Homo sapiens: one gene and its partners. The protein of the gene in region 1 purifies or fractionates together with the protein of each later gene. This does not show direct contact. Each region holds a gene or a part of one and is shown in the gene's direction. Other genes may lie near its edges. The genes, in order: SMC1A, POLE, RFC1, NEK10, PPIE, CTCF and WFDC5.

The links.
Region 2: the proteins of SMC1A (region 1) and POLE fractionate together in Homo sapiens (co-fractionation; one large-scale study listed by BioGRID). This does not show direct contact.
Region 3: the proteins of SMC1A (region 1) and RFC1 purify together in Homo sapiens (affinity purification with western blotting; 2 studies listed by BioGRID and IntAct, with this or other methods). This does not show direct contact.
Region 4: the proteins of SMC1A (region 1) and NEK10 purify together in Homo sapiens (co-immunoprecipitation; one large-scale study listed by IntAct). This does not show direct contact.
Region 5: the proteins of SMC1A (region 1) and PPIE purify together in Homo sapiens (affinity purification with mass spectrometry, with the first as the bait; one large-scale study listed by BioGRID). This does not show direct contact.
Region 6: the proteins of SMC1A (region 1) and CTCF purify together in Homo sapiens (affinity purification with western blotting; 2 studies listed by BioGRID and IntAct, with this or other methods). This does not show direct contact.
Region 7: the proteins of SMC1A (region 1) and WFDC5 purify together in Homo sapiens (affinity purification with western blotting; one study listed by BioGRID). This does not show direct contact.

Annotation. Positions count from the first base shown.
Region 1 is NC_000023.11:53,416,155-53,419,654, reverse strand, and holds part of SMC1A (structural maintenance of chromosomes protein 1A), read left to right. Parts: intron 1-3,500. UniProt on the Homo sapiens protein: Involved in chromosome cohesion during cell cycle and in DNA repair. Central component of cohesin complex. The cohesin complex is required for the cohesion of sister chromatids after DNA replication.
Region 2 is NC_000012.12:132,673,843-132,677,342, reverse strand, and holds part of POLE (DNA polymerase epsilon catalytic subunit A), read left to right. Parts: intron 1-689; coding exon 690-797; intron 798-1,138; coding exon 1,139-1,249; intron 1,250-1,522; coding exon 1,523-1,608; intron 1,609-1,825; coding exon 1,826-1,945; intron 1,946-3,500. UniProt on the Homo sapiens protein: Catalytic component of the DNA polymerase epsilon complex. Participates in chromosomal DNA replication.
Region 3 is NC_000004.12:39,290,160-39,293,362, reverse strand, and holds part of RFC1 (replication factor C subunit 1), read left to right. Parts: intron 1-1,510; coding exon 1,511-1,724; intron 1,725-3,203. UniProt on the Homo sapiens protein: Subunit of the replication factor C (RFC) complex which acts during elongation of primed DNA templates by DNA polymerases delta and epsilon, and is necessary for ATP-dependent loading of proliferating cell nuclear antigen (PCNA) onto primed DNA.
Region 4 is NC_000003.12:27,110,884-27,114,383, reverse strand, and holds part of NEK10 (serine/threonine-protein kinase Nek10), read left to right. Parts: intron 1-85; coding exon of another isoform or gene 86-104; exon of another isoform or gene 105-158; intron 159-3,063; coding exon 3,064-3,112; 3' UTR 3,113-3,500. UniProt on the Homo sapiens protein: Plays a role in the cellular response to UV irradiation. Mediates G2/M cell cycle arrest, MEK autoactivation and ERK1/2-signaling pathway activation in response to UV irradiation.
Region 5 is NC_000001.11:39,752,382-39,755,881, forward strand, and holds part of PPIE (peptidyl-prolyl cis-trans isomerase E), read left to right. Parts: intron 1-528; coding exon 529-671; intron 672-905; coding exon 906-974; 3' UTR 975-3,500. UniProt on the Homo sapiens protein: Involved in pre-mRNA splicing as component of the spliceosome. Combines RNA-binding and PPIase activities.
Region 6 is NC_000016.10:67,625,026-67,628,525, forward strand, and holds part of CTCF (transcriptional repressor CTCF), read left to right. Parts: intron 1-1,529; coding exon 1,530-1,690; intron 1,691-3,344; coding exon 3,345-3,500.
Region 7 is NC_000020.11:45,108,963-45,112,174, reverse strand, and holds the end of WFDC5 (WAP four-disulfide core domain protein 5 precursor), read left to right. Parts: exon of another isoform or gene 1-1,308; coding exon of another isoform or gene 1,309-1,399; coding exon 1,400-1,540; intron 1,541-1,634; coding exon 1,635-1,775; intron 1,776-2,161; coding exon 2,162-2,166; 3' UTR 2,167-2,712; downstream 2,713-3,212.

The DNA of each region.
Region 1 (3,500 bases):
ACGGGGTTTCACCACGTTGTTCAGGCTGGTCTCAAACTCCTGACCCCGTGATCTGCCCACCTGGGCCTCCCAAAGTGCTGCGATTACAGGTGTGAGCCACCGCGCCTGGCCTATTTTTTTTTTTTTTGGAGTCAGGGTCTTGCTCTGTCACCAAGGCTGGCATACAGTGGCACAATCATGGCTCACTGCAGCCTCAACTTCTCGGGCTCAAGCAACCCTCCCATCTCAGCCTTCCCAGTAGTCAGGACAACTGGAGTGTGCCACCATGCCGAGCCAATTTTTGTATTTTTTGTAGAGATGGGATTTTGCCATGTTGTCCAGGCTGGTCTCAAACTCCCGAGGTCAAGTGATCCACCCACGTCTGCTTCCCAGAGTGCTGGGATTACAGGCGTGAGATGCCGTGTCCAACCTAATCATAGTCTTATACCGTCTCTATGGAAGGACTTGGGCTGCTGTTTTTATGGCTGAGTAGAAAGGTGTTGGAAATCAGATCTTCAGTTCAAAGTCATATATAAGTTCTTTAGGGACAGTCTTGAGATAGAAATTATAGAGACTAAACTGTTCCTCCTTATCCACCAGCCCGACTAAACTTTTTTTTTTTTTTTTTTTTTTTTGAGACAGAGTCTCTCTCTGTCGCCCAGGTTGGAGTGCAGTGGCGCGATCTCAGCTCACTGTAACCTCCACCTCCTGGGTTTAAGCGATTCTCGTGCCTCAGCCTCCCGAGTAGCTGGGATTATAGGCACACAACCGTGCCTGGCTAATTTTTGTATTTTTAGTAGGGACGGGGTTTCACCATGTTGGCCAGGCTGGTCTCAAACTCCTGACCTCAGGTGATCCGCCTGCCTCGGCCTTTCAAAGTGCTGGGATTACAGTCATGAGCCACTGCACCCGGCCTAAACTTTTAAAACAATATCTATTTTTTGGCCAGGAACGGTGGCTCATGCCTGTAACCCCAGCACTTTGGGAGTCCAAGGTGGAGGATCTCTGGAGCTCAGGAGTTTGAGACCAGCCTAGGCAACATAGGGAGACCCTGCTTCTGCAAAAATCCAAAAACTAGCTGGGCATGGTGGCTTATGCCCATGCTTCCCGCTACTTGGGAGGCTGAGACAGGAGGATCACTTGAGCCAAGGAGGTCAAGGCTGCAGAGAGCTGTGATACTGCTACTGCACTCCAGCCTGGGTGACAGAGTCAGACCCTGTCTCAATAAATAAATGAATAAGGTCTGGGCGTGGTAGCTTATGCCTGTAATCCCAGCACTTTAGGAGACCGAGGTGGGTGGATCACTTGAGGTCAGGAATTCGAGACCAGCCTGGCTAACATGATGAAACCCCATCTCTACTAAAAATACAAAAATTAACTAGGTGTGGTGGCACACGCTTGTCGTCCCAGCTATTCAGGAGACTGAGGCAGGAGAATCACTTGAACTTGGTAGGTGCAATCTAGCGTGGGCGATAGAGCGAGACTCCATCTCAAAAAATAAATAAAATAAGTAAATGAAACCTTTTTTGTTTTCGGATTCTAAAATGAACAAAGTAAAAGCTGTAACTCCACTACTGAAAAGATAGCCACTGTTAATGTTGAAAACCTTATTTATTTGAATAGCTGGTACATGTACATGGTATACAATTTTAAAAATCCTTAAGGATATACAGTAGTAAAAAGAAGACTCCCTTGACCCTAGCTGCTTAGTTTCCTTTTCAGAGGCAATCACTGCTGCACTGTTTACGTTTTCATATATTTGTTTCCTATGCCTTCTCTTCTCCCAAGTTTTATTATGAAAATTTGCAAGCATATATGTGCATTACTTAGTCATTTGGAAGTAAATTACAGACTCAATTACATTTCACCCCTAAGTGCTTCAGCATTCACCTCTTAAAATCATCATTCTCCTGTACTACCACTATTCAGTTATCACAACTAAGAAAATTTCCTCATGTCATCAATTATCCAGTTTATATTTAAGCTTCCTTAACTTGCTCCCCAAATGTCTTTTTGTTATTTTGGAACCAGAGTCCAGTCAAAGTTTGTGCACTGTTTACCTATGTCTCAGAAATCTCTCATGTTTTGGAATGGTTCGCTCACTTTTTTTTTTTTTTTTTTTTTGAGATGGAGTTTTGCTCTTGTTGCCCAGGCTGGAGTGCAATGGCGTGATCTTGGCTCACCGCAACCTTTGCCTCCCAGGTTCAAGCGAGTCTCCTGCCTCAGCCTCCTGAGTAGCTGGGATTACAGGCATGTGCCACCATGCCCAGCTAATTTTGTATTTTTAGTAGAGACGAGGTTTCTCCATGTTAGTCAGGCTGGTCTGGAACTCCCCAACCTCAGGTGATCCGCCCGCCTCGGCCACCCAAAGTGCTGGGATAACAGGCGTGAGCCACCGTGCCCGGCTCACCCTTTCTTTTTAGACACTGACTTTTTGAAAAGACCAGGCCATTTGTCTTTGAGAACATCCCACATTCTGTGTTTGTGTTAAGATTTCCTCATGAAAACCTTACTATGTTCCTCTATATTGTATTGCTGTATTTCCTAGGAACTGGAAGATAAGTCTGAAGGCTTGTTTAGATTCAGATTAGGCTGGATATGGTGGCTCATGCCTGTAATCCCAGCACTTTGGGAGGCCACGGCGGGAGGATCACTTGAGGCCAGGAGTTCAAGACTAGCCTGGGCAACACAGCGAGACCTTGTCTTTATTATAACAAAAAATTAAAAAAAGGAAAAAAATAGATTCAGGTTAAATATTTTTGGTAAGATACATCATAAATGATGCTGTGTGTTTCATATTGTTTCACAACAGGAATATGCACTTTTTTTAGATGGTGGTAAAATACACATAAAATTTCCTAAATTAACCATTTTTAAGTGTGCAGTTCAGTAGTGTTAAATATATTCACGTTTTTGTGCAAACGATCTCTAGAACTTTTTCATCTTGCAAAAATGAAAATCTATGCCCATTAAAAAACAACTCCCAGGCCAGGCGTGGTGGCTCATGCCTGTAATCCCAGCACTTTGGGAGGCCGAGGTGGGCGAATCACAAGGTCAGAAGATCGAGACCATCCTGGCCAACATGGTGAAACCCTGTCTCTACTAAAAATACAGAAAGTTAGCTGGGTGTGGTGATGTGTGCCTGTAATCCCAGCTATTCGGGAGGCTGAGGTGGGAGAATCCCTTGAACCAGGGAGTCGGAGGTTGTGGTGAGCTGAGATCACGCCACTGCACTCCAGCCTGGCAACAGAGCAAGACTCCATCTCAAAAGAAAAAAAAACCTCCCATTTTCCCCTCCTCCCAGCCTATTTTTAAATTTTACTTTACATTATTATTATTATTATTATTTTATTTTATTTTATTTTTTTTTTTTGAGATGGAGTCTTACTCTGTTGCCCAGGCTGGAGTGCAGTGGCACGATCTTGGCTCACTGCAGCCTCCACCTCCCAGGTTCAAGCGATTCTCCTGCCTCAGCCTTCCAAGTAGCTGGGATTACAGGCGCCCGCCACCACGCCCAGCTA
Region 2 (3,500 bases), on another chromosome or scaffold:
CTTCATCCTAAAATTTCCAGTTTTCTGGAGAGAATATTCTTCAGTGCTGGAGAGTGAATCTGACTCAAAGATATGTTTGCTGCTTTTCCCCCAAATACTTTATTAAAGGAAATATGGAGTTAGAATTTTTCATCAGTTTCTGACAGTATCATTTCCTTTTTTGTTGTATATCACTGTATGACATCAGTGTTTGAGCTAGGCAGGATTTGGACACTCGAGGGAAAGCTGGGACTTCCGTTTGGGTAGTTGATAGTGAAGGGACATGGTGAAAAATGGATTTGTAACTAGAAGGCCTTGGTTCAAACATGACTTTGTGGTGTTGGGAAAGTCTTTGTATTCAGTTTTCTCTTTTCCGAAATGAAGATATCATCTCTGTGCCACAGTTACCTTTCAGAGTTGTCATAACCACCAGAATGAGGTGATGTCTTTTGAAGAGTTTTTCTCCTAAAGTTCTGTGATTTTAGGCTTGTCCTGTGATCAGCTGCTCTCTTAGGTATGTCAGTTTTCATACCATAGGGAGTCGTGATACTCTTGATGTAGGTTGGTTAGTCTTAGGGTCCTTCTCCCAGCTCTAGAGCCTTTTGACTCTTTTAACAACCAGAGGGAGGTAGAGCAGGCTGGGGGTGGGTGTTCAGGGAGGCCTAATGGGGAGTTTAGAGCTTGGCTTTATGCTTATTTTGTCCCCACAGGACCCTGTGGTTTTGGCATTTGACATTGAGACGACCAAACTGCCCCTCAAGTTTCCTGATGCTGAGACAGACCAGATTATGATGATTTCCTACATGATCGATGGCCAGGTGAGCAGGTGGCTTCTGGGAAGTAAGCTCCTGGGATGGGGACCTTGTCTGGTCCCCATACTACAGCAGCATCTGCCCCACTGTTAGTATTTGTTGAGTGAATAATGAGTTAGTCCAGGAATGGGAGCAACCAAGCCGTTCCGACCTCCAGCTGTACCCTCCCCTTTCGAGTGGGAATCCACACACAGAGCGTCTCTTCTCAGGAAGCTTAAAGCACTTTCACATTGCTGTGGACTTCTTTGTAGTGAGAATCTCTAGGCAGAGTGTGTGGGCAGGGTGGGAACGCCATTTCTTGGCTTTGCAGCCTCTGACTTGTGCTGATTGCTAATGAACTTGGCTAGGGCTACCTCATCACCAACAGGGAGATTGTTTCAGAAGATATTGAAGATTTTGAGTTCACCCCCAAGCCAGAATATGAAGGCCCCTTTTGTGTCTTCAATGAACCCGATGAGGTAAGGAGGTATCACTTGGGAAACTACCCGGTATTGTGGGAAGAACGGACATGTGGATCTTTCCAAGGCCTCAGGCATTCCGTCAGATCAGAATTGCAGCTCCATGAGCTTTGTTCTCAGGGTATGACCGTCTTTTCTGCCAGAGACGGGCGGAGGGGCGGGGCAGGAATAAGGGCCAACATGAGGCTGCTGCTTCTGAACTTTGGGAGAGGAATTTGGAATAGCTTGAAGAAGAGAAAGAGCAGACCTCTGACTGCTGTGACTTGGGTTCAGGCTCATCTGATCCAAAGGTGGTTTGAACACGTCCAGGAGACCAAACCCACCATCATGGTCACCTACAACGGGGACTTTTTTGACTGGTGAGTCTGTGTCTTCTCTATGAGTAACTGGGCAGCATTTGAGAGGGAGGGCGTTGCGTGGTGCAGGGGCGCTTCCCATGTCGACTTAGGAGGTGGCTCCTGGGTTCACTCTGCACCTCCCGTGTCTGGGTTCCTCCCTGGGTCTGAGGGAGGAATGGAGAAAGGGGCATTAGAGCCTGACCTGCCCACTTGCTTGTCTGTCCTCTTTCCAACCCAGGCCATTTGTGGAGGCCCGGGCAGCAGTCCACGGTCTGAGCATGCAGCAGGAGATAGGCTTCCAGAAGGACAGCCAGGGGGAGTACAAGGCGCCCCAGTGCATCCACATGGACTGCCTCAGGTAGGGGCCACAGAGCAGCATGGCTCCTCACTGCTGTCCGTGAGCGAGATCTGAAGGCCTCTTGCAGACTGTGCTGTCACCACATCTCATGGGAGGAGGGTGGCCTCCGAGAGGCCGTTTCAGGTCACCCAAGAGTATGGCAGCTGCAACCCTGCCAGGGCCCGGGATGTGCTGTCTTTGACTGTTGACTGACAATTCATCAGTGACCAGGCACATTGAGCATCAGCCTCTGGGGTGGGGAAGCCGCTGGAAAGACGCACTCAGCTGACAGGTCCCAGACCTAGGACCTCATGGAGCTGCTCTGCCCAGGCAAGGTTGGGATGTGGCAGCCCGGCTGCCTCACAGGACAAGCCTCACGGGACAACCACAGATTCCATATGAGCTAGGGTGGGAGGCAGCTCAGAGCTTCGGAGAGTCACGGCGTTCGGGGGCTCTGACATGACTGGTTGGGAAGACAGGTGGATGTGGAAATGCCAACAGAAGGAGGCTGGAAGGGAAGGAAGGGAAGGGAGGGAGGAAAGGAGGGAAGGGAAGGAAGGGAAGGGAGGGAGGGAAGGAAGGGAAGGGAGGGAGGGAAGGAAGGGAATGGAGGGGCCTCCACGGCCTCTGTATTCTGCACAGTGCCACTGGGGTGCTTGCAGCCTGAATGCGTTTCTGTTTAGCTCTGATGCTCAGCACTTGGCTTGGAGAGGGAGGCCAGGAGGCTGGGGCCGGTTTAGCGTGTGACGGTGTGACAGTCCTGATCCAAGGCAGGGAGTGAGGGTTGTGAGGATTCAGGATCTGTCATGTGGGGCAGGGGGAGGCCCAGGGATGCTGGTTCTTAGGGAGGGGTTGGCACCTGGGGTTTTTGTGCCATCCGTGGAGACAGGGAATGGGTAGAGAAGGGGCTTGAGGCAGGAGGTGACCCTGCTACCGATATGCTAGCCTGGAAGCCCCACCCATATGGGGGCCCTGAAGACCACCATGAGGCTTGGTTTGGGCTCGCACTGTAGATTGGGACTCACTGGGTTGCGGGTGGGTCTTGGTGAAAGCTGGGGTAGTGGATGAACTGAAGGCAAGAGGTAAAGTGAGAGAAGAAGGCCACAGGGTGGAGGCTGCGGGGGGTGGAGACCGGACATGACCCCTGGACAGCTGCTCCAGGGAATGCGTCTGTAGGGAGGAGGTAGAGACAGGTTCCGGGTAGAGTGTGGGGGGCCTTCTTTTCTTAATTTTTATTTTTTATTTATTTTTTAAATTTTTATTCTTCTTGGCATCTGATCACATCTTGCCTTCTATTAAAGGAGGGTGGGCTTGAGTGTTTCCGTGCTGAAGGGACAGTGTGAGGAGAGAAGATCAGTGTGGTTGATAGAACTAGGCCCCAGGGGTGCAGACCTGAGGTCTGGGGAGAGGCCCAAGGAGGTGGGGCGCCCGTCGGAGAGGCCACAAACTCTGCTGAGGATGGGAGGAAGGCGAGGGCCGGAAGGACCAGTCCTGGTGCTTCCTTGTGTTGTGGATAGGTCTGTGAGATTAACTAGATCCTGATGAAGGGTTTTCACAAGGTGTCTACACCATGTGG
Region 3 (3,203 bases), on another chromosome or scaffold:
ACCCTTGGTTTAGGTGCACTAAATGGCATCTTTGACTTTTCTATGAGTCTATTAGAAGATGATGATACTGTAAAACATTGTAGAACAGTTTTGGAAATGGTTTCATGATTTCTGGGGGTACTGTGGCTTAGGGACTCACACTGCTTCCTTTAAGTACTAGCGTGCTTAATTATGGAAGACAATCTAGAGGAAATGGATGAAATTAAACTAGGAGAGTTTTAAAAACTCTTTGTCTAGGTAATAGTTGCGAGGGTGAGTCTAGATTTCTGATCAGGAAAAAAGCTGTGGCTTCTTATGGTTCACACATTCAGTTCCTTGAAGGCAGGAGCAGGACCCATAGACAATTTGTAAAGAATCATTTCTTTTTGCTTCTGATGCTGGTTCTGATAACAACAACTTTTGAAGTTTTACGTATACAGGCTGGGTGCGGTGGCTCACGTCTGTAATCCCACCACTTTGGGAGGCCAAGGCGGGTGGATCACCTGTTAGGAGTTTGAGACCAGCCTGGGCAAGATGGTGAAACCCTGTCTCTACTAAAAATACAAAAAAAAAAATTAGCCGGGTGTGGTGGCGGGTGCCTGTAATCCCAGCTACTTGGGAGGCTAAGTCAGGAGAACCTCCTGAACCCGGGAGGTGGAGGTTGCAGTGAGCCAAGACTGCACCACTGCACACCAGCCTGGGCAACAAGAGTGAGGCTTCGTCTTTAAATAAATAAATAAATAAATAAATAAATAAATAAATAAATAATGTATACATATAAATGCCTGGTTTGAAGATAGAGGCAGCTGGGTTGGAAAGATTTAGGATGGTGGCATTTGAAATATTGTTTTGTTCAGTTGCTTTCTGTCTTTAAGAAGTGACAACATTTAAGAGAGAAAGAAAGAGTCATTTTATGATAACATTCGAGTTCTCAGCAGACCAGAGACTGTTTCCCTAAACCTTCCTCTGGCCACTGTGGATCACTTTTTGATTTTGTGGGAACACTCTGTAATTTTCTTAGATTTGGAGAAAAGCCGGCTCTAGAACTGACGATTTCAGAGTAACAGTATTAGGAAATGTGAGGGAAGCATTCATATATGATTTTGTGTGTTATAATCAGGGACCAAAAGGTGTTATACACATTCACACACTTGAGATAGGGAATTTCATTGCCTTATACTGATGCTTTTAATATTTTGGAACTTGGAACGAGTCATATTTATGAACACAAAGAAACATTCTGTTGCCTGGGCCTTAAGAGTAGGGTGGAAGTAGAATCCACGTATGTTTTTCAGTCACTGATGTAGGTAAGTAGAAAATTTCCTTTGGGCACATTGATGTGTACCCATTACCCTCATGCTGTGGTGCTGGGCTTTCTAAACTACACCAGCTGGCTGTCAAATAGTAGGCATTCCATTCAGCATTATTGAAATTGGATTGAACTCTGCCTGATTAACTCAGTGCTGTTATGCACAGTATGACTTGAGTTGATACTTTGCTGTTGACTATGTCTCTTTTGTTGTGGTTTCAGAACTTACTCCAGCAAAAGGACTGTAAACATGGATTATCTGTCGCTTCTAAGGGATGCACTTGTACAGCCCTTGACCTCACAAGGAGTAGACGGAGTACAGGATGTTGTTGCACTTATGGACACATATTATTTGATGAAAGAAGACTTTGAGAATATCATGGAAATCAGCAGCTGGGGTGGCAAACCTAGTCCCTTTTCAAAGCTGGATCCCAAGGTAAATCATGTCACTCACTGGTTCTTCGTCACTTTCTATTACCAGGTTTGTACTGACAATACTTCGGAGGTGTTTTAGATGCTTTAAGATTTACTTCTTTTTCCCCTCAAATGCTTGTTGCTTCTTATGGCCTATATTTTCCAAAGATACTATTTGAATGCAGTATTAAGAGTAGACTTCTGGGCTTGACTTTACAATTTGTATTTTTATCTTTGCTTTATGCTCAGTGGAAAAGCAAGAAGTGAAATTTGAGGAGCAAATATAAATATATTCTTTATAAAGGATGAGTGGATGAGTCTAGGGAATTAAAAGTTGAGCGGTGAGCTCTGGTGGTAATGGGTTGTAAAAATAAAATATGTTTATTGGCTGAGGATTTGTACAAATTTTCTTTTTCTTAGTCTACCTAATCTGTGGATTCAGTATTTATTCCAGTTGGATAATCTTCTCTGTAATAATGTATCCCCACTTTTCTTATAATGAGACGAAAAAAACTAAAGTGATACATCATGAATATGTAACATCCAATACCCAACTCTTGCACCTGTGTAATGAATGCGTTTTAGAAGACATATTCTCTGTAGTTTGCCCTCCCCAGAATTTTGACCCGACTTTATGGTTATCAGTAAATTCTCACAGCAGACATCCATTGTTAGAATTCATGGACTAATTCAGGAATTATGTTTAGAAGCTTGAAGGTAAGACTTTCAAGTTACTTAGTATTTTGAAGTAACTACTCTTATTATGGAAAAGGTATCTAGTGTTTTGTGGAAATTAAAGGCCAACTTATATCTTGTGATGAGCTCCCCCAACCTTTTTTTTTTTTTTTGAGACAGTCTAGCTCTGTTGCCCAGGCTGAAGGGCAGTGGTGCGATCTCGGCTCACTGCAACCTCTGCCTCCCGGGTTCAAGCCATTCTCATGCCTCAGCCTCCCAAGTAGCTGGGATTACAGGTGCACTCCATCACGCCTGGCTAAGTTTTGTATTTTTAGTAGAAATGGGGTTTCCCTATGTTGGCCAGGCTGGTCTCAAACTCCTGGCCTCATGTGAACTGCCTGCTTTGGCCTCCCAAAGTGCTGGGATTACAGGCGTGAGCCACCACACCCAGCCGAGCCCCTTTTTGATTTACTGATTCACTGATTAACTTTGCTTACTACTTTGTAGAAATGTGGAGAATGCTGAATAGGTAAACATGATGACTTGAAGTGACCTTTTGTTTGTTTGTTTGCCTAAAGTTCCCAAATATATATATACGTATTTTTTTTTTTTTTAGACAGAATCTCACTCTGTTACCCAGCCTGGAGTGCAGTGGCGCAATCTCAGCTCACTGCAACCTCCACCTCCTGGGTTCAAGATTCTCATGGAGAAGCATGAGCCACTGTGCCCCACCTTCAGTCTTTTTTGTCATGGGCTCTATTAAGAATGTTATGAAAAATATGGAACTTATCCACAGAAAAATGCACGTACTTAGATTTACATGTAT
Region 4 (3,500 bases), on another chromosome or scaffold:
ACCGTCAATAGAAATTACCATCTCCACAACTACTCTCCTCCCACCATCCCTGGAGAGATTTTTGAATTTTCATTTTCTATTCAAGGGCTGAGTATATGCATTAGGAAAAGAAAATGGTAACAGGAACAGAAAGAGCAGCAAGGACCTCTGACCAAGTTTGGATATTTCTCATTTCTGGGCTTCCGGGAAAAAGGGAGCTAGGACTGAGTTGGAAGGAAGAAAGCTGTGTAAAGAAAGTTAAAGAAGGTCATAAAGGCTTGGCCAGCCTCGTAGCTCTTCCCAAAGCAGGCTCTATTTTTGATCATTTGCATGGTTGTATGATAAATTACATTTTACATACATAAGCATACTATCATGGATAGTATGAATGTTTCTGTTTTTAACTGTGAGCCTCATTATTTCAAGTGCCCTTGGCTTGTACTGGGGAAAAGATGACTCTTGTCATTTTATCTGCATTTTCTCAGAGACTTGGGATCATGGGCAAGGAATGTCTTCATATTTTTTGCAGAAAATCATTTAAATATCAAGAAAAACTAAGTGTGCAAGGAACTTAAGGAAGCTCTTACAAGAACTTTTATTTTCCCTTTATTAAAAAATATTTGTCTTATTTTGGAATTTATCATTATTCTTTTTCAATTCTACTTTCATTAGGTTTTAAACCGATCTAGTTCCAAAGACATATGGCTTTATTAAAAGACATTGCAAATTTTCTTATTATGATAAACAGATAATAAGATGCCTTATAACAAAGGCAAAAAATTATTCAGTTATATTTGTAATTGTGAATCTATTATGAAGGTATGATGAAACAGTCAAGTTTAAGCAATATAAGTTGGGTATTGCATTAAATTTTCTTAAAGTGCTCCAAATTAAAATGAATCACATTTAAAAATCCATATATCCATGGTATTCCCTTTTTGGCTTCTTTTTTTTTTTTTTTTTTTTTTTGAGATGGAATCTCGTTATGTTGCTCAGGCCAGGCTGAAGTGCAATGGTGCGATCTTGGCTCACTACAAACTCCACCTCCTGGGTTCAAGCGATTCTCCTGCCTCAGCCTCCCGAGTTGCTGGGATTATAGGCGCCCACCACCACACCTGGCTAATTTTTGTATTTTTAGTAGAAACGGGGTTTCTTCATGTTGGCCAGGCTGATCTTGACCTGGCCTCAGGTGATCCACCTGCCTTGGCCTCCCAAAGTGCTGGGATTACAGGCATGATCCACCACACCCGACCCCCTTTTGGCTTCTAATAGCAATGATAGAACATATCTTGGGAGAAAAACTCTCCAGAATTTGTTTGTAAAAATAACCCTTGTTTGTGCCTAAAGCCACTCTTTGTTTACTAGTATTCCAAAATAATTTCCAAGAAATAAGTCAGGCTTCAATTAGAAGCACCTACTAATCCACAAACTGTGAATAACACATAACTCCAAGTACAAATCAGATTAGCTGGTACTGTCATGCTTTTTTCCACAAAGGATGGAGGGTGCTAAATGTCACAGCATATGTAGAGGTATTTAGAATCAGTATTTAGAATTAGTAGACTGCATTTTTCCCCAATAGGTTTCATAGAATGGGCAATATTATCAAAGATGTCAATAGATAGTCTCTGAAAAATAAAGTTTCATGGCCACATATATTTGGGAAACTCAGAATGTACAATTTTTTATATTTGGAGAATGTTGACACCTATTACTATATTAAAGACTCTGAGATGTACTATAAGAAAGAAATCTGTTGACCTTGTTTGTTGACCTCAGTGTTTTCCTCACTCTTTACATGGAATACAATTGAGGAAAGCTGTTTTAGCTATGTGGTTGGAAATGAGGAACACCGTTTTCACTCCTTCACCAGGGTCTACCCAGATCTCTGTTGTTCTCATTGACATGGTCATCATTGTCATCATCGTCATTGCAAAATTTGTTCTTAAATGAATTAAGCACCGTGCTGAGAAAGTTACATATATAATTTCGGTGTTATTCAAGTTTACAATTTAAGACTATCAGTTTGAATAGTACACACATCATCTAGCCAGCCAGTCACTAAAGGATTAATTCAAGATAAGGTACATTTTTGGTTTAAATTATAGGGTTTATATTTAGTTAAGGAAGAGAATAGAGAGGTGCCATTTTCAGACTGAAAGTCTCAGGATAAAGCCATTATCTATCTGTTAGCTATCTTTGAGGAAGATTTCTGGAACTGTTTAAATCATGAGGAGACTGCTTGGACAGTTAGGAAGAATGTCTCAGGCATAAAATGCTGCATTAGGAAAAGAAAATGGTAACAGGAACAGAAAGAGCAGCAAGGACCTCTGACCAAGGTTGGGTATTTCTCATTTCTGGGCTTCTGGGAAAAAGGGAGCTAGGACTGAGTTGGAAGGAAGAAAGCTGTGTAAAGAAAGTTAAAGAAGGTCAAAAAGGCTTGGCCAGCCTCATAGCTCTTCCCAAAGCAGGCTCTATTTTTGATCATTTGCATGGTTGTATGATAAATTACGTTTTATATACATAAGCATTTAGCTTGCTTACCAGAAGGATGCAACTTAATATGCCTTAATTTTATCATTGTTGTTTGTGAGGATAAAATCATTTGAGTCATGAATAAACAGATAATGAGCATATAATCTTTATGAATATACTTATGTATTACATTAATATTTTATTTTTAATAATAAAATGTGTTGAGAAATAACAGTATACAAGATAACAAATCTACATTGAATCAACTTGAATTGTTTTATTTCCCCAATTGACTGATAAGCGTGTAAATTAGTTATTTTAACCTACACAGGTATTCAAGTATACAAGCTATTTTGAATGAATATTTGTTTTTCTACTACAAAGTGTTATCAGTTCCTATTGAGTTCATAATTTGAGAAAGGCCTTGTTAGCACCAGACTTCAGCCAAAGGCAGCTTTTTAAAAATGTCCCCATCCTAACAAAAATAATCGTCTTTTTATTTACTGTGATTTATTTACTTATATGCCTGAGCCCCAGTTTTTGAAATTGAATGTATGAACTAAAATATTTGTAACTATAGAGAATTCTTTCCACTTCTGAATCTTATAGGTATCATTCCTATCCATGGGGGACCAAGAATCACCCAACCAAAAGATGAAAATGCTGCATTTTGAGTGGACTTGATTTTCTCAGTGAAGTTCAAGTTCTGGACTTCAGCCGCTATTGCAAGATGCCCAAGGATTGGGTGCTGCTAGAGGGTGTGGAAAAGACCAAGATGCCATGGGGCCTGCAGGACTTCTTTCTGGGGGTCCTGTGCTGGAGTATATGACAGCTGCGGTACTTGAGGGCTTCATTGCCAGAACACATTATATACAGGATGTCAGAGCTACCAGTGTGCTGCTGGGAGAAAATGCTGCAAAATTCATCTTTTGGAGGGTGGGGGGAAAACCCAAAAACAACAACAAAAAAACTCTCTTACAGAATTTTCCTTAACATTAAAAAAAACTTGTCATATTTTTCAAAGGCACATTTGATACTCAGAATTG
Region 5 (3,500 bases), on another chromosome or scaffold:
CTGTTTCAATAAATGACTCCACCATCCACTTAGCCGCTTGATCAGAAACTTAGGAGTCATTGTGGACACACACACACATACATACATGTACACATACACACACAGACACACACATATACATGTACATTCTCTTACGTGACAAATGTCCATGTTACCAGGCCTCACTGTGTCATAGCTGTCATTTTGAATGGCTCTTTTCCACTGATTGTGAGCTCCACCAGAGCTTGGACTATGTTCTGCTCATCAGTGTTCCCAGGGCTTAACAGGGACCTGGTTGTCAAGTAGACACTTAATTGTTAAATAAATGAATTAATGAAAGAACAGACCAGTATAAAGTGATTGAAACACCTCACTTACCATTTCACTGACTATTAACTGAATCCAAGATAAGGTGGCCGCATTTGCATGTGATCTGTGCATCCCCGAGTCTGAGCCTGACTGGCTGAAGGGCTGTCAACAGCCTGCACAGACGTCCTTTAAGGGCTGGTAGCCAGGGTTCGGGGAGCTGATGGTTGTTCTCTCCCTCAGGTCTACTATCCATGGCCAACTCTGGCCCAAACACCAATGGCTCTCAGTTCTTCCTGACATGTGACAAGACAGACTGGCTGGATGGCAAGCATGTGGTGTTTGGAGAGGTCACCGAAGGCCTAGATGTCTTGCGGCAAATTGAGGTATGTGGCCAGGAATGGGCCTCCTCCTTACCCAGGCCCTAGGAGCACAGCCCTGTGTGAGGGCTGGAGAGTCTCTGTGGCCTGAGAGAGATGGCCAGGGGCTGTGTCCAGCGGGAGGGGCTGCTGCTGCCCAGGTTCCGGGGTGGAAGTGGGCAAATGGGCAGGCAGGGGTTGGTATCCCTAAACCACTGTTAGTCTCCGGCCTTACTCCCTCACTTCTATTCTGCCACAAAGGCCCAGGGCAGCAAGGACGGGAAGCCAAAGCAGAAGGTGATCATCGCCGACTGTGGGGAGTACGTGTGAGGCGGCACTCTCTCTGCTTCCCCCTCCGCTCTTGACCCTGCATATCCAGGAAGGAACTGCCAGCCTCAGAGGAGGCAGCACCGAGGGTGCCTGTTTGAAGCAAGCAGCATTTGGGATATGTGCCCTTCCTCAGGGTCTGCTTGGAGCAGCTCCTCTGCAGGCACAGCCTGGACTATTCCCAGGCACAGCTGTGGGCCCAGGAGCCAGCTCAGGTGCTCCCCTCCACCATGGGCAGGCTGTGCAAAAAGCCACTGGCTTTTCTCAGCATTTGCTGCTGGGCCTCTCCTGGGACTACCAGTGTGGCTCTTACGTGTTTTCTTTGCTAAAATAAACCCTAGTTCTTATATTGCTCTTCCTGCTAGTTCTTGGGAGTTGTCAGAGATTGTGTCTGTGGCTAAGCTGGACCTCTGAGGCAGGCTGGTGAGTGGGGAGAGCAGAGCATCTTTTTCACAGCTTTCATTTCCTCCCTTGGGCCGATCCCCTTAGATGTCAGGTGATGTATCTTCACACCAGGCATCGATGTCAGGGCAACGGAAATTAAAGACTGGAAAGCTCCGGTCTTCTGCTGCCTCTGCTCCTAAACCCAGCTGCCGGCCTTACAGCCAGCAAGTGTACTCTCAGTGGTTCATTTGTTTATTTGTTCACTTTCACCCTACAGATTTTAAAAAATGAAATTTTTATAACTCAAAGTGCCTTCTCTGTGCCAAGTACTATGCCTATTTGTCAGGAGACAGGAAGCCAACAAACTACATGTGCCTAATCCAGCCCACTGCCTGTTTTTATGAATCAGGTTTTATTGGAACACAGCCACGTCCATTTATTTACATATTGTCCATGGTGGTTTCTTACTGCAGTGGCAGAGGTGCGTAAGGGGCTATAGACACAATACAGGCTATGGTCCCTGTATTAGGGTTTTCTAGAGAAGCAGAACCAATAGGGTGTGTATATATGTAGAAAGAGATTTATTTTAAGGAACTGGCTCAAGCAGTGGTAGGAGCTGGCAAGTCTGCAATCTGCACAACAGACCAGCAGGCTGGAGACTCAGGAAAAAAACTGATGTTGCAGTTCAGCTCTGAGGCAGTTTGGAAGCAGAATTCTTCCTCCAGTGATCTCAGTCTTTTTTCTCTTAAGAATTTCAACTGATTGGATGAGGCCTACCCACATTATGGAGGGTAATCTGCTTTACTCTCTACTGACTTAAATATTAATCCATCTAAAAAATAGGCCAGGCATGGTGGCTCATGCCTATAATTCCACCACTATTGGGAGGCTGAGGCAGGAGGATCACTTGAGCCCAGGAGTTCAAGACCAGCCTGGGCAATGTAGAGACCCCCATCTCTAGGGGGAGAAAAAAAAGCCAGGTATGGTAGTGCACACCTATAGTCCCAGCTACTCAGAAGGCTGAGGTGGGAGGATCGCTTGAACCTGGGAGGTTGAGGCTGCAGTCAGCCATGGTCATGCCACTGTACTCCAGCCTGGGTGACAAGAGGGAGACCCTGTCTTGAAAAAAAGAAACCATCATCACAGCAACATCTAGACTAGTGTTTGACTAAAAACTGGATACCATGGCCTAGCCAAATTGACACACAAAATAGACCATCACAGTCCCAAGGCCTAAAATACTTACTATCTGAGCCTTTACAAAACAGGATTGCCAGCCACTGAAGAGAACAAATGGTCCCACCCCCTGCTGAGCTCACAGTCTGGCTCTCCTGTGTGCAGCCACTTCTTGGAGCTGGCTTCTCTCCACTCCCCCTCCAGATGCTGGTCAGCCAGGCGGTTATAAAGAATCTCATCTGCTGAAGGCTTTTAGCAGGGACTGAGTCCTGTAGCTGTTGGACACCTCCTGTGGGTTGGGTCACTCAGACCATTCAGAATCCACTGAGCTGAGCTTTTGCATCTTGGATTGAGATCTGGATGAGCCAGGAGGCAGGAGAGGCTAGGTGGTCCTCATGACCCTAGGATAGCTCTTGCTGAGGGATGGTGGCATTCTGCCCTACCTCTGGCTCCCATGTGCCGACTGGACTTTGTGAGCTCCAGCTGCTACAGTTGACTGAGTTCAGGCTCCATGTAGCTGGGATATACTACATGGTTACCCCTCACCCCTATGGAGCTTCCAAAAGAGACCCTCCCTCAAAGCACAGCCCCTTCTCTGAGTGCAAATAATGGCCATCAGAGGTCAGTCACAGGTGTTAGGCAGGCATCTATGAAGCTGGGGATGATAGCACTGACTTCAGTGCTTGGACGAGAACCAGGAGAGAGTGTGTAGAAAAAGCACAGCCAGCCTCCCATAAAAGGACAGACTCCTGTGACAACCTTGTCACTCTGTTCCTCCCTGATACTCTGGGGAGGTGGAGGCCAGTGGGCAGTTCTGAAAGCTCAGCAGGTTTGGAGCCATTGGGTGTGGACTCCTCTCCCAGTGTTCCTCCTGGGTGTTCACAGATGTTATTGAATGCACACTGGAACCCTGCACAGGTAAACTGAGGCTTTATTGGCGTGACTGCCAAAGGTCACACAGGGTGGTTT
Region 6 (3,500 bases), on another chromosome or scaffold:
ATGATTCTCCTTCCTCATTTTCCCGAGTAGCTGGGACCACAGGTGTACGCCACCATGCCTAGCTAATTTTTGTATTTTTCAGTAGAGACGGGTTTCACTATATGTTGGCCAGGCCAGGTCTCAAACTCCTGACCTCAGGTGATCCACCCACCTTTGCCTCCTAAAGTGCTGGGATTCTTTTTGAGATGGAGTCTTTGTCGCCCAGGCTAGAGTACAGTGCAGTAGCACAATCTTGGCTCACTGCAACCTCTGCCCCCCAGGTTCAAGCCATTTTCTTGCCTCAGCCTCCCGAGTAGCTGGGATTACAGGTTTACAGGCATACACCACCACGCCCAGCTAATTTTTGTACTTTTTAGTAGAGACAGAGTTTTGCCATGTTGGCCAGGCTGGTCTTGAACTCGTCACCTCAGGTGATCCACCTGCCATGGCCTCCCAAAGTGCTAGGATTACAGGCGTGAGCCACTGTGCCTGCCAACTCTTAGACTTCTCAAAGCATGACCCATTCTTTTTATTTTAATTCTACTTTTTGCCTTGGTGATCTTATCAGCTCCCATGGGCTCAAATTCTAACAACTCTTTGTGGCATTGGTGGTACAGTGATAAGCATAGCTGCTTTCAAATCCTAACAACTTGTACATTTATATTCCTACTCCAGATCTTTCTTTTGAGTTAGCCTTATATAACTGTGTATCCCTTGCCATCCCACCCCTGCTTTTATATCTCTGGCATTTCAAATTCAGCATGTCTAAAACTGAAGGTCTAAAACTTCTCTGTCCCCTATGCCCCCCCACCCCCCGACCCTGAAAATAACACATACAACTTGGTCTTAAGCCCTCTTCCACTATTCTTGTCTCAATAAATGACCCCAACAGCTACCTGGTTTTCCAGGCCTGATACCTACTTTATTCTTCACTCTCTACAGTCACTAAATCCTGTTGATTCAACTGCTTCCATCTCTCATCAGTTCTTCCCCTTCCATCCACACCCATTGTCATCACCCTTGTCCCAGCCACCATCTTCTCCCACCTATCCTGTTTGAACAATCTTAATTGTTCTCCCTGCACCTGTTACTCTGCCTTTTCATTCATTTTCTGTATAGCACCCAGAGTAATACTTAAGAATCAGGAGAAATGGGCTGGGCGCAGTGGCTCACACCTATAATTCCAGCATTTTGGGAGGCCGAGGCGGGCAGATCACGAGGTCAGGAGATTGAGACCATCCTGGCTAACATGATGAAACCCTGTCTCTACTAAAAATACAAAAATAAAAAATAAAAAAATTAGCCGGGCATGGTGGCGGGCGCCTGTAGTCCCAGCTACTCAGGAGGCTGAGGCGGGAGAATGGCATGAACCTGGGAAGTGGAGCTTGCAGTGAGCTGAGATTGCGCCACTGCACTCCAGCCTGGGTGACAGAGCAAGACTCCGTCTCAAAAAAAAAAAAAAAAAAAAAGAATCGAGAAATGTATTAGTAACTTGTTAAAATGCTTGTTTGTGTTTTCACATTACCCTGGGCTTTTTACTGTGCTTTCAGGTGTCCACTTGCGAAAGCAGCATTCCTATATTGAGCAAGGCAAGAAATGCCGTTACTGTGATGCTGTGTTTCATGAGCGCTATGCCCTCATCCAGCATCAGAAGTCACACAAGAATGAGAAGCGCTTTAAGTGTGACCAGTGTGATTACGCTTGTAGACAGGTAGGAACCTTCATTGAAAGTTGTTGGTGCTTTCTCGGTGTCTGGTGTTATCAGAGGGCATTTACATATCTAGTACAGTGGCTGTTTTTAAAGATAGTATTTTCAAACTGTGGATTATGAGGAATGTCACCAAAATCAAAGGTCATGCTCCTTGTCAATTGTGTCATCCCGGTGTCCAGATGATGTTTTATTCAGTCACAGCTTACCTCTTCCTTAAGCAGACATCTTTCTGAAAACTGTGGAAAGTAAGTCCAGGACTTGAGAGAGGGGAAGAATCTCATGCGGGGACATGACTGTTGGGAGGGAGCCAAAGAAGGAGCTCAGCAGGAATAAGCAGCTCTATCTGTGCTACAATTATGGAAGCAGTTGTGCACCACACTAAAAATACCTTTATCAAGCCGGGTGCAGTGGCTCACACCTGTAATCCTAGCACTTTGGGAGGCCGAGATAGGCAACAGAGAGAGACCCCATCTCTACAAAAAGAAAAAATTAGGGCCGGGCGCGGTGGCTCGAGCGCCTGTAATCCCAGCACTTTGGGAGGCTGAGGTGGGCGGATCACTTGAGGTCAGGAGCTTGAGAGCAGCCTGGCCAACACGGTGAAACCCCGCCTCTACTAAAAATACAAAAATTAGCCGGGCATGGTGATAGACGCCTGTAATCCCAGCTACTCTGGAAGCTGAGGCAGGAGAATCGCTTGAACCTGGGGCGGAGGTTGCATTGAGCCGCGATTGCGCCACTGCGCTCCAGCCTGGGTGGCAGAGCGAGACTCTGTCTCCAAAAGAAAAAGAAAAAATTAGCTGGGGCCAGGCACGGTGACTCACACCTGTAATCCCAGCACTTTGGGAAGCCAAGGCAGGCAGATCATTTGAGGTTGGGAGTTCAAGACCAGCCTGGCCAACCTGGTGAAATCCCATCTCTACTAAAAAAAAAAAACAAAAAAACACGAAGGTCGGCCGGGCGCGGTGGCTCACGCCTGTAATCCCAGCACTTTGGGAGGCCGAGGCAGGTGGATCACAAGGTCAGGAGATCAAGACCATCCTAGCTAACACAGTGAAACCCCGTCTGTACAAAAAATCAGCTGGGCGTGGTGGTGGGTGCCTGTAGTCCCAGCTACTCCGGAGGCTGAGGCAGGTGAATGGCATGAACCCAGTGAGCCGAGATTGCGCCACTGCACTCCAGCCTGGGCGACAGAGTGAGACTCCATCTCAAAAAAAAAAAAAAAAAAAAAAGTCAGCTGGGTGTGGTGGCAGGCACCTGTAATCGCAGCTACTCAAGAGGCTGAGGCAGGAGAATTGCTTGAATCCGGGAGGTGGAGGTTGCAGCGAGCCAAGATCGCGCCACTGCACTCCATCCTGGGCGATAGAGCGAGACTCCGTCTCAAAAAAAAAACAAAAAAAATTAGCCAGGCATGGTGGCTCATACCTATGGTCCCATTTTGAAGCTGCAGTAAGCCATGATCACACCACTGCTCTCCAGACTTTGCAACAGAGCAAGACCCTGTCTCTAAATATATAGCTTTATCATCTCAACAAGCCGTGTGGAGTCTAGACCTAGCTTGGGTGAGAAATACCTGTTGGCCACATGCATGCAGGTGGCAGCTGGGGCAGTAGCCCCATGAGCAGGCTCTGAGGCCTTTCCCCCTATGCCGTTTCAGGAGAGGCACATGATCATGCACAAGCGCACCCACACCGGGGAGAAGCCTTACGCCTGCAGCCACTGCGATAAGACCTTCCGCCAGAAGCAGCTTCTCGACATGCACTTCAAGCGCTATCACGACCCCAACTTCGTCCCTGCGGCTTTTGTCTGTTCT
Region 7 (3,212 bases), on another chromosome or scaffold:
CCCCCACCACCCCAAACCCACACTTTTTCCCCCTCCCCACGCCAAGCCTCTCTTTCTCCAGCAGGGGGCAGCAATTTAATTTAAACCAACCCGATGTGACAGCTGAAGTTGACTTAGCGCACGTAGGATGTGAGCAAGGTGCCTACTTATGTGTGCAGCCAGCACCCAGGCAGGGGGCTGAGGGGGAGGGGCGGACACAGAGGTAAAGTCACAGAACCAGATCCAGCTGCCCCTCGGAACTCTTGAACATTTTCTCTGATGCTGGATTGAATTGAAGACCTGGGACCTGCTCCATCCCTACAGCTCAAAGACAGCTCAGGGTGGACACTCACAGAGGTCAGAGGGAGCCGGGCCCTGGGAGTCCTAAGCCCAGCCCATGTGGGTCTGGACAAGTCACTGCCCTTTTCAGGCCTTGATTTCCTCCTCTACATGGAGGAGGATACTGATTTCCAGCTTTGTGCATGAAATATGAACATGGCCCAAAATCCCAGCAAGAAGAATGTTAGGTAAGCTCTGGGACAGGACACTCTATACCATTCAGAGGAACGCCTCAGAGACAGAGTTAACGCCTGATCCTCGAAACCATGCCATTTGCAACAGTGATGAACGCAACGGTGCAGAAGACGTGGCCAGCTGTGGCTGTGACAGTGCACCAGGCTGGCCACTGCTGACGCACGTGCAATGCTGGGCCTCACTTCAAAACCCTTTCTTTCCAAGTCACTGAGCCCTACTGCTGTGCGCCAAGGGCTGTGATATGGACCAACGGTGAGCAAAGCTGGCAGGGTGTCTACTCTCCTCACCTCCAGCCAAGTGAGAGACACAGACAAACAGATGCAGCATCACAAACTCTGGAGGAAAGAAATGAGTGTGTGTGTGGGGGCCGGGGTGGGGGGGCGCTGACCTAGTTAATGTGGGGTCAGAGAAGTAGGGTCTTCTGAGGATGCGATGTTTCTGCTGAGTCCTAATGAGCTGACCAGGCGCATGGAGTACAGGAGAAGTGCACTAGGCAAAGGATGCGGCCCGAGCAAGAGCCCTGCAGAGAGAGCTGGCTTGGAGCAGATCAGGAGGCACTGAGTGGGAGGGCAGTAGAGGATGGGGCTAGAGAGATGGGCAGGGCCCAGACCAGGCATGGCCTTATTGGCCACAGTGGAGATGTTGGGCTTCATTTTCCCCTGTCATTTGTGCCATCTGAGTCTCAAACTAGCCCAGCTTCCCATTTCACAGCCAGAAAACTGAGGCTTGGAGTCATTATAAACAAACAAACAAACAAAAATAACAACTAGCCAAAAGACAGGCAAAAAGCAAGGGATGGAGAATTCAGTCTTGTCATTCCCAGGTCAGCGCTTATTACATAACCGTGAGCTTCCTCCAGCTGCAATATTAGGAGATTCTCTTACAGAGAAATCGGGGGGCTGCCCGCCAGATGATGGGCCCTGCCTCCTATCGGTGCCTGACCAGTGCGTGGAAGACAGCCAGTGTCCCTTGACCAGGAAGTGCTGCTACAGAGCTTGCTTCCGCCAGTGTGTCCCCAGGGTCTCTGGTAAATGCCTCCCCTCCACCTTGCTGACCATCCAAGCCCCAAGCTTCAGGGCCAGTGGGCAAGGACGGAGCTCACCCAGTTCCCTGTGTTGCAGTGAAGCTGGGCAGCTGCCCAGAGGACCAACTGCGCTGCCTCAGCCCCATGAACCACCTGTGTCACAAGGACTCAGACTGCTCGGGCAAAAAGCGATGCTGCCACAGCGCCTGCGGGCGGGATTGCCGGGATCCTGCCAGAGGTACGGCTCCTGGGTGCCCAGGGCAGGTGCCTCCCCTCTCCGAGCCCAGCTCTAATACTTTCTTCATTGCTACAAGCTTAACAGGATGCCTCCCCAGAAGTCAGGACCTCCCATGGCCAGGATTAGGAAACTGGATAGGGGTTGGAGGAGTCCTGCTAGGATGACAGAGGACCCGGGAGTCCTTGGTTCTCTTCTTGAGCTTGCTGTGGCACCTGGATGACAGCCCTAAACTGCTCTGGGCTTCTGTTTGCCCTTTTGAAGGGGGCAGAGGAATCCTGCCTTGGTGGCAACCAGAGCTGAGCTGGTGGGGCATGGATGGGAGACCAAGGCCAGAAACCAGAGCCCTATTATGGGAAGGAATTAACCCTTTCTTTCTCCCTCCTCAGGCTAATTCTGATTTAGGATCTGTGGCTCTGCACCTAAGCTGGGGACCAACGGAAAGAGTTCACGATGGGAGGCCTGGGGCCCTGCCCGCTGGACAGCACTATCTCTACCAGCGGTGGTTCCAGCCTTCTGATAATCACTGGCCTGCTGACACTTCCCTGCAACCCATCCACCCCTGGTTTCTCCTCCTGGGAGTCAAAGTCCATAGCCTGAGCTCGGAGGAAGGCCTCTGTATCACCCCAGTACTCTGCACCACTGCCATACGAGCTTCCCACCCTTCCTAACGCTTTCACACCAATCCGTACATGCTGCTTCCTCCACCAAAAATGCCCAATTCAGGCAGACCCTGACCTCTCCCTCAGGCAGCCCAACCATCCAGAATGAATATTCTTGCAGAGTTTTCCAAACATCAGTCATTCACCTCTTTCATGATTTTCACCATACCTACAAAATAGCACCATGATAGGTTGCACGCTGCCTGTACCACCATTTACTTAATGTTTTCTTTAAATGGCTCACTTTTGTATATAAATAAATTCATTTCAAAAGAAAATTGATATCACTACTATAAATGAGATCAATTACCACAAATGGAATTATGAAAACAAATGCAATGGAAACAGCTCAGTTCCATTAAAGTAAATCATGTCAGATTAAATGATATTAAATAGTGTTATTAAACTCTAGCTAGCTACAGCCACCTGCCAAGACTGAGCCTGAAGCCTGTACTCACTCTATGTTTTTGGTTTTTTGTTTTTTGAGACAGAGTCTCATCCTGTTGCCCAGGCTGGAGTGCAGTGGCACGATCTTGGTTCACTGCAACCTCCGTCTCCCGGGTTCAAGCGATTCTTCTGCCTCAGCCTCCCAAGTAGTTGAGACTATAGGTGCCCACCACCATGCCTGGCTAATTTTTGTATTTTTAGTAGAGACAGGTTTTCACCATGTTGGCCAGGCTGGTCTCAAGCTACTGGCCTCAAGTGATCCACCTGCCTCAGCCTCCCAAAGTGCTGGGATTACATATGTGAGCCACCGTGCACGGCCAGTCTATGTTTT